Linked DNA regions of Homo sapiens. The protein of the gene in region 2 interacts with the protein of the main gene of each other region in a biochemical or structural test. Each region holds a gene or a part of one and is shown on either strand. Other genes may lie near its edges.

What was found.
Region 1: the proteins of KIFAP3 (region 2) and RAP1GDS1 form a complex in vitro, tested with the Homo sapiens proteins (one study listed by BioGRID).

The regions. Positions count from the first base shown.
Region 1 is NC_000004.12:98,439,344-98,444,637, forward strand, and holds the end of RAP1GDS1 (rap1 GTPase-GDP dissociation stimulator 1), read left to right. Parts: intron 1-2,646; coding exon 2,647-2,774; 3' UTR 2,775-4,515; downstream 4,516-5,294. UniProt on the Homo sapiens protein: Acts as a GEF (guanine nucleotide exchange factor) for the Rho family of small GTP-binding proteins (G proteins) that stimulates the dissociation of GDP to enable subsequent binding of GTP.
Region 2 is NC_000001.11:169,920,560-169,924,745, forward strand, and holds the end of KIFAP3 (kinesin-associated protein 3), read right to left. Parts: intron 2,544-4,186; coding exon of another isoform or gene 2,507-2,543; intron 1,223-2,506; coding exon 1,117-1,222; 3' UTR 770-1,116; downstream 1-769. UniProt on the Homo sapiens protein: Involved in tethering the chromosomes to the spindle pole and in chromosome movement. Binds to the tail domain of the KIF3A/KIF3B heterodimer to form a heterotrimeric KIF3 complex and may regulate the membrane binding of this complex.

The DNA.
Region 1 (5,294 bases), on a different chromosome or scaffold from region 2:
CTTTCTTTGCGTTTAGTATTCAGAAGTTTAACTATGATGTGTCTTGGCATGGATTTCTTTGGGTTTATCCTGTTTGAGTTTGCTCAGCTTCTTGAATTGATAGGTTTATGTCTTTTGCTAAATTTGAGAAGTTTTGACTGTTACTTCTTCAGGTACTTTTCAGCCCCATTCTATCCACTCTTTCCAGACCTTTGTTGACACTAATGTGAGATCTTTAATTATAGTCTTGTAGGTCCCTGAGGTTTTGTTCTTTTTTACCCACAGATTATTTTCTTTCTGTTGTACAGACTGAGTAATTTCTATTGTTTTATCTTGGAAGTTCTCTGATTATTTCCCTTGTCCCCTCTATTCTGATGTTGAACCTGTTTTTATTTCAGTTATATATTTTAGTTAAAAATTTCCATTTGCTTCTTCTTTATATCTTTTATTTCCTTGCAGAGACTTTGAGTCTCTTCCATTTGTTTAAGCATTTTTAGAATTGTGGTAAAACATACAAAACATAAAATTTACTGTTTTAACCATTTTTAAGTATACAGTTTAATGGCATTAAGGACATTCACATTGCTGTGCAATCATCACCAGCATCCATCTCCAGAACCACCTTCATTTTCCCAAACTGAAACTCTGTACTCATTAACCAATAACTCCCCATTTACCCCTCCCCACAGCCTCTGGCAATCACCATTTATTTTGTGTCTCCATCATCTGACAACTCTAGTCACCACATATATGTGGAATAAGAAACTCCTGTCCTTTTTTGTCTAGCTTATTTTACTTAGGTCTTTAAGGCTTATCTGCATTGTAGGCGTGTCAGAATTTCATTTCCTTTTAAAGCTGAATAATTTTCCATCATATGTATATATCACATTTTGTTTATCCATTCATCAATCCATGGACATTTGGGCCATTTCCACCTTTTGGCTTTTGTGAATAATGCTGCTGTGAACATTGGTATGCAAATATCTCTGAGCCTCTGCTTTTAATTATTTTTGATATATACTCAGAAGTGGAATTACTAGATCATATGGTCATTCAATGTTTAATTTTTTTATTAAATACTGTTTTTACTAATTAAATACTGTCATACTCTTTTTCACAGTGGCTGGACCATTGTACATTTCTTCCAGCAGTACACATGGATTATCATTTCTCAACATCCTCACCAATATTTGCTGTGTTTTAGTAATGGCCAAACTAATGAGTGTGAGGTGGCATCTTACTGTGGTTTTTATTTGCGTTTCCCTAATGATTACTGATGGGAATCTTTTTATGTGTTTGTGGGCCATTTGTATATCTTCTTTGGAGAAATGTCTATTCAAGTCTTTGCCCATTTTTAGAATTGAAGGGTGTTGTTGTTGTTGTTGTTGAATTGTAAGAGTTTTGTTTTTTTTGAGACGGAGTTTCGCACTTGTTGCCCAGGCTGCAGTGCAATGGTGCAATCTCGGCTCACCGTAACTTCCACCTCCCAGGTTCAAGCGATTCTCCTGCCTCAGCCTCCTGAGTAGCTGGGATTATAGGCATGCACCACCTGTAGAGATGGGGTTTCTCCATGTTGGTCAGGCTGGTCTCAAACTCCCGACCTCAGGTGATCCACCCACCTTGGCCTCCCAAAGTGCTGGGATAACAGGCGTGAGCCACCACGCCTGGCCCAAGTTGTAGGATTTTGTACCAGTACCCCACTATCTTGATTATTGTAGCTTTGTAGTAAGTTTTGATATCAGTTAGTATGAGAACTCCAGCTTTGTTCATTTTCAAGATTGTTTTGGAGATTTAGGGTCCCTTGAGATTCCATATGAATTTTAGGATGGATTTTTCTATTACTACTAAAAACACTGGTTCATTGGTTTATGTCAGTCATATCAAAATAAACACATCAGTTTCAGTAGTACTGATTACATTAAGCTTATTAGACTTCACTCATCCCATATAACAGTTCTCAGAGTCCTAACAGGAATCCTATATTTTCTTGTAATTGAAGTTAAATAGAGAAAGCAAGTCAGAAAGAAGAGGACAAAAAATCTAAAAGGGAGTCCAGTGTCACAGAAATTTGTTGAAGGATATGAAGTATAAACTTTTCTTTTGCCACAAAATTAATTTGAAACATATCCTAAGCTTTTTGGTAAGTCATTGGACTTCATATTTGAACTGGTGATAGGGTTGTATGTAACCAAACCTTGAGATCATACAGTGAGCTGTGTTTAATTATAACTCATTATTGTAATTAATCTTACATTGTAGAACTTGACGTCTCGTTTTTCTTTTTAAAAATTGGGCAAGTAGCTGTGCAGTGGCTCATGACTGTCATCCCAGCTACTTGGGAGACTGAGCAGGATGAATCCCTTGAGGCTAGGAGTTTGAGGCTGCAGTAAGCTGTGACCATGCCACTGTACTCAAACCTGGGCAGCAGAGCAAGTCCCCATCTTTAAAATTTTTTCCTTTAATTTAAAAAAAAGTAAAGTTTTTATGATTTTTTTAAATTATAATACATTTCTAAGAAAGACATTGCTAGGCTACTGCTATGTCTTTTTCCAGAATTGTTTCTAGTTTTATAAGCTTAGTCTTGTCAAAATAAACATTTTGGTATATGTTTTGGATAGACTTAGAACAACCTAACAGAATCATATCTGTTATTTTTTTGTCTTCCAGAATGTCTACACAAGGAAGTACAGGATTTGGCTTTTCTAGATGTCGTATCCAAACTTCGCAGTCATGAGAACAAAAGTGTTGCCCAGCAGGCCTCTCTCACAGAGCAGAGACTTACTGTGGAAAGCTGAGAACTGCCCGATACACGGCATCATCCCATCTCTAATTTCCCCTCTGTCCTCCATCCAGCGGCTTCTTCCGCTTCATTCTCTACCATACCACTTGTGCATGCATGTGATGTTCTAATACCAATTGAAGAACCGCTGTAGGTACCTCCCTAATAAGATTTCTAAACCTATAGTTAGTGTGATCATGACTTTGTCAAAGGCAAGTCTCCACCCATAACCGTTCTCTTGTATTCCTGTTGCTTGAGCTACATTAAGTAGAATGTGCATGTTGTAGTCCTATGATGATGTAAACTTGGTACTACATAATGACTTGCTCCACACATGCAGTAAACTACATAATGATGTACTGGTAAACTAGAAACAAAGAATGCAGCAGGATCTGTCTAGCTTATTAAAGATGAAACTGAATTGGAAAAATAGCTCCATTTTTTGGTGCTTGGGAAGCACAGTGACCAAAAAAGTTGTATGGCTGCTTATTCATTAGTCTTTCCTACTGATGTCAAATCCATGGTACCTAGAGTTAAATAAAATTCCAATGCTCTTACTCTTTAACTTCTGGTTTCTCCTTTTTCCTTTTTAGACTATTGAAACTGCCACAAACTTGGCAAGACTTTCTGAGGTTTCTGATTCCATATTTAATTGACTATTATCAATAGCCTGATATTGAAAAACATTTGTAGTTTTCAGTGTGAAACTAAGGGGTTGAAGAATCACTATTACAATCCCTATTACAGAGCATTTCGGGTTTTGCTTGTATTTTAGATTCTGATACATACGCTGTTTCACTCAGGAACTACTTCTACCAGTTAATCAGCATTATCCAGCACTTGTCTTTAAAATTCATTTGGCGCTTGTTTGTTTTCAACTGAGGAAATTGAGTATAGTTCATTGAAGAATGGAATTTTTTTTTTTTTTTTTTTTTTTGCTGTTTTTCATCATTCAGCTAGAAAGTGAGAAGTTTTATCTTCCATAGTCCTTTTAAATCTTATGTTAGAACTAGCAGGACGTAGGTGGAAAGATGAAGAAATAAGCTTGTCTAGACTAAAGAAAGGAAAGCAGGTTATAAAAGCCATAGTAGCCAGTCCAGTTCATTCTGCAGATGGCCCCATACCAATCGCTGTTAGAGTTTGCCACCTCCACTTTCCCACTGAGAACTGCAGCAATTTTAAAGGATATGAGAAAGCCAAGACTCAAGAGATGAGAAGACCCCCTTGGCGAAATATAGTGTACTCTTCACTGCCACTGCCACCACCAAATGGGTTTTTAGAGCTTTGAAACACAATCTTTGTAAATTAATCAAAACCTCCCTGTGACCCACCTGCCTTCTCCCCATACCCAAATTTGACCACTACTGGCCTAAAAGGCAAGATGGGCTTCGATATAGAAGGACTGCAAGACAGTAGAAAGGGCTGCCACGGAGGTGACAGTAGCTCCTTCCTCTCCAACATGTGATGCTACACATCTCTGTGGATAATCTAAGTTGGACTTTTGACTCTAAAACAGCTATAATCCAAGAAAGTTAAATTCTAATGGAGGTAAAGAATCTTGACTGATTGTTCCCTTTGATGTCCAAATAAGGGAACTATTGTGAGTACGTATGCTACACTTACTATAAGAATGATACTGTTTGTTGTCTTTCTCCTGGGCTGGATAGTGGACTATATTTTATTACAGGCTTTGAAAGACATCTGTAATGTTGCATATCTGTTCATATTAATAACTTAATAAATAGTATATGAAGCTATAATGGCATCATTTGGTTTGTTTGTATATTTTGTCTCTATTTCCAGCTCCTAGAATAAGGCTTGCTATTGATGTTCAACAAATATTTGTTGACTGAATGAATGAATCCTGCATCCATGAAGTTTCCAGACTGCCTGAACTAATTCCAGAAAGATAGACTGACTGACTGATAGAAAGTTTGAGATTTGATAGTTTGTCTGACTTTAGGGAAAAAATTTTAACAAAAGCATCCTAAAATCGTAAATGTGAGAGAAGTTACCATCTAGGCCAGCTGCCAGCCATCAATTTGCTAATATGCTAGGAACTCCCATCTCCAGCAAAATAAAGTGCAATTCAAAGTACTCATCATTGTACGGAAAGACCAGAAGGCTGTGCCCTTATCACAGGGGCTACCAAATTAGATGGTACACTGATGTGCCATTGCAGTGGATGGGAGAGTCTACAGACTGTACTCTCGCTTATCTCCTGCTACTAAATCTTAGTCCTAGAGGCCACTATTTATTAAGTTAGTTTGCTACCCACTAAGAGTACATTCTAAGGGAGACAACAGGAGGGAAGAACAGCACAACAAAGCTTTAACTGTCAATCTTGAGCCAGTACTAGAACATAGATGAAAAGGGCAGGAATACAAGCAAAGAAGATGCCTGAGTGCAATGCACTAGAATATACCCCTTTCCCCCCAACCCCATTAGCAACTTGGAGTCATGCCAGCCCACCCACCTAGACCATAACCTCATTGTGCTCAAAGCAAACACTAGCCCATAACCCAGTGTTTTCCAT
Region 2 (4,186 bases):
AATAGTGTAGTTAGATCAATGAGATTTTAAATTCAAGAACAGAAGTCTTATCTTTGATCTATGTATTCCCTTTGAAGCTTCATATTTTCTCCCATAGCAGGTGATCATGGAACTATCTCTGATTATAGTTATTATTATGGTTATTTCTTTGCTCAGCTTTTCAAGTAGAATTGAACATTTTTTTAATATGAAAACACTGAACTATTTTCAAAACCCATTATGAATTATATAATGTCTCTCCATTTCTTGCTATCTAAATGTACGTTATAAGAACAAGTGAACAATTGGGAACTGGGTACCCAAGTGAGTGAAATATTCTGTTCCTTAGTTTTCCTTAATGCGACTTTTAATTAGCTTTCCCATGCTTTAGATACTAAATTTATGAAGAATAAAAGTTAAAAGCCAAATGCTAATCTTGTATCACTGCTTGTCTTGTATACTACTTGTCCTAGGATTTCTATATTACAACTAGGAAGATATGAATTAAAACCACCAAAGAGACTATAACCATAAATAACTTATGACATATGTTCCATTATTAATTGAAAACTCATAGTTAATAAACTTTGGGAAGGAAACTTTCAGGCACATGGCATGGAATATGAAGGTGATGTTCTTTTTATAAATTTTAAAGGTAGCATATATTATACAAATTACTCAAGAGTTTACAAGCAGAAAAAAAGGAGAAAAAATAAAATTCACGCGCACCCTATATTAACATGTAATTCGTAGTGAAATGTGTGAAATATAAACACATGACTTTCACTTATTCATTTTCACTTTACGCTTTTTAATTGAAATTAAATTAGTCACTTAACATACATAATGCAGTGTTTGTTTTCCAGTCTAGTAGCTTTTCAGCATTCAGTTTTGTGGCTCATGGGAAATGTTACTTAGCATCAAGATGTGGTTTGATGAGTGAACAATGTCAGTATCAACTGTACTTAACAGAAGACAGAGGGGCTGGGGTTAATCTGCAGCTAACAACATATAAAAATAAAAACAAACACAGACCCACAATAACATCAACATGCATTATTAGGCAAAGATCCAAAATTAACCCAACCCACACAGATTTCTTCTAAGCTGAGATTACACATGGAAACAGATACTTTATCAAGATCCATAGCCATAGTAGTAAGGTTCATCAGGGCGGAATCCATATGCTGTGGCAGGGCGTCCAAGAATGCCAACTGGTTGGCCAAAGCCATCCATTCCAAGGCTAAAAAAGAAAAAAAAGAATGATAAGCTATGTTTTTCATCACACATCCACAATGCAGATTAAGAGGCCTACATTTTTATACCACCAAGATTCTCTTCCTAGCAGGGATAGTGATTTAGGTGGATATCATTAACTTTTTTTTTTAAGGTTAATAGAGCCATTAAAAGTGTATATAATAAAATACTTCTAACAATGTGTGTTAAAAGTATGGGAAACCTCTGTCAGTAGGTACTATTTGAAACAAAGTGGAAGAATCAAATCAGAAAAGTTTTATTTAATAAATTACTTATATATGGCTCTTAAGCAAAAATATGAAAAGATTTTACATGCTAGCAATGATCAGTAATATATTGCTAGGGAATGATAAAAATAAAACTGTAGTAAAGTGAGTTTTGCTGTTTATAATGTCTTTTCATATGAAGATACAGGACTAATTCCACTTTTAGTAAAAACATGTGTTTGAGTTATATCAGTGAACTCTCATGCAGGGCCAAATCATACCATAAGCCTATGATTAAAAGAACAAGATAAGGAATTTGACAAAATTTGAAAATTAGTCAGATTTGATCTGCAAATCCTTCCTCTGATTCCTCAATGCAAACAATTACAAAACATATCTATTTCTTTTGAGTGACAGCAAGACAATTACAAATTTTGGTTCAACTTATTCTATGGGAATAACAGAAACCCAAAGATAACCTTCAGAGTTGTAAAGATAGCTTGAAGTATGTTAAACTTCATGATTATTATTTTAAAAAAATTACTTGTTGGTCTATTAATACATTATTTAGAGGAAAATCTGTTCTCCAAAGTCCTTTTTAAAGGTCAGGGAATTATCCAACACTTAGGAAAATGATAAAGTATTTATTTTGCCAGGCAGAACATGGTGGCCTTAACATGCTCATGCATAGCTCATGCAGTGAATGCTAGTGAGCTTGACTTCCAATCAATGGACACCATTTGTAATGCAGAAATGTAAGCTTTGGAAAAATAAAACATATTTAAATGATTTAAGATTTAAGTTTGCACTACATGAGATGGAAAGATAATTTTCCCTCAATAGCAAAAACTGAATGTGATGAAAAAATATATTCACATAGGCACTAACTCCCTGTCACACTCAGAGTGAGATTAAGTTGACACACTTTAGAAGTAACTATTAAAATGTTAAGGTTTTAAATAAATGTGTGAATGCGTGTGTGTGTTTGTGTGCACGCGTGCTTGTGTGTATTAAGATGGAACTAAAGAGTAAATGTAAAGAGCCAAAATACATATAACACATACTGGTCCAGTGACTCTGCCCTTTAGGAGAATGGAAGTTCTGAAATACAAGTTTCAGGTTAGCATTTGTACTGAGCGATTCTGGACAAAATTTGTTGTTTTGGGGTCCTTCTATATAAAAACTCTGTCTATAGTTTCTCAAAGTTGGTTGAAATTTTTAAGTCTACATTTTATTTTGAAATGGTAAAAATATAGGCACTTTTTCTAACTTTGATCTCATGGGAAGAGAGACTAAATTTTGTGATGAGGAAATCAAGAGGTAGCTTAAAAGATGCTTCAGAAATTAGTGGAATCAGTGAACTAAGAGACACTGGTATCAGCTTAAAATTAGAGAAGTTATTGAAAACTGTTCTCTGCAAGCACTAAGGCTAACAAGTAATCATGTATCTAAAGAACTCTCAATTATATAACTGTTGATTACATAGCTTGGATTTCAACTTGTTCCTTCTTCATCTTTTGCTTATTACCTGTCTTCAACCAGTCCTTATCTTTTTTAGCAACTCCTCTGAGGCCAAATAGCAGTAGACTTAGGTTAAACTCAAGTTAATCTTATGCTTGTTTCTCAATCTAGGGGCTATGGCAAGATCTATTTCAGTAATATGAAAACAAGAGGCATATGTGGGACAGTGAGGAAACATGCAAAGGCACCTTCAGAGTATCTCACAGACGACTTGTTAGCAATATCACTGTAATTCTACCTAAAAGAAGATGGTCCTCAGAAGGGAGTTCACCAGTCATTGGCACAGAACAAGGAGCGTCTCAGCTACAACGCTGGTTGTAGCAACCTAGGCAATTGCGTGGTGATCTGGTAAGCTATAACACCATAAGGAATATCTGGCCTTTTTGCAGTTTGGTCCTCAATCAGGAAGGGAATTTAACATTCTCAGAGTCTGAGGCCATTCTACATTCAAGTTGCAAAATTCTCCCCCTTTTTTTTATTTCTACGACTAATAGGCAAACTATTGATCACTGTAATTTCCCATGTAATTTGCCAACAGGTTAAATAATAAACTTAGATATTACCTAATCCACCTGATGGTTATAACTTTCATTGTACATTAACAAATGGATTTTTCTTTTTAAAATATGTCATGCACATTGTTGATAAAAACCTGCAGTCCCAAGTCAGTGAAAGACTGGCCCTTGAGCACTGATGAGTCTGAGTTTCTGAACCTGTAAATCTCTGGTCTTGAACAGTATGGTCTTTAGGTTACTATGGTAAAGATCTATTTATGTAGTCAGCAGTTCACCCAGAGACATCTGTGTGTATTACAGTGTAGAGGATATCATTTAATTTTTCGAATTTCTATATACAAATATCGTTTTGGAAAAAAGGAATAAAATTTGAAACCAAACTCTAAAATGATCTTTTCTGGAATTCTCCATTATGTATCACAGATGAACTTGCTGTTTAAAGCAAAAAATATTTAAAACATTTATGATCAGTTTGGAGAGTACTTTGACATAGGTCCTAGGTCCTTTTGTATTATGAAAAATCAACTATATCTACATACATTTTTAATTAAATTCACTGTGAAACATAACAGTTTGTTTCTTTAAACTCTCATTTGCTTCTTTCTAATATAGTGGGGGAAATCAGGCTTTCTAGGATGCTAAAACCTGGAGACATTCTTTTGGAATATGTAGACACTTTACTTTTTTCCTTGGGAAAAGGATACAGCC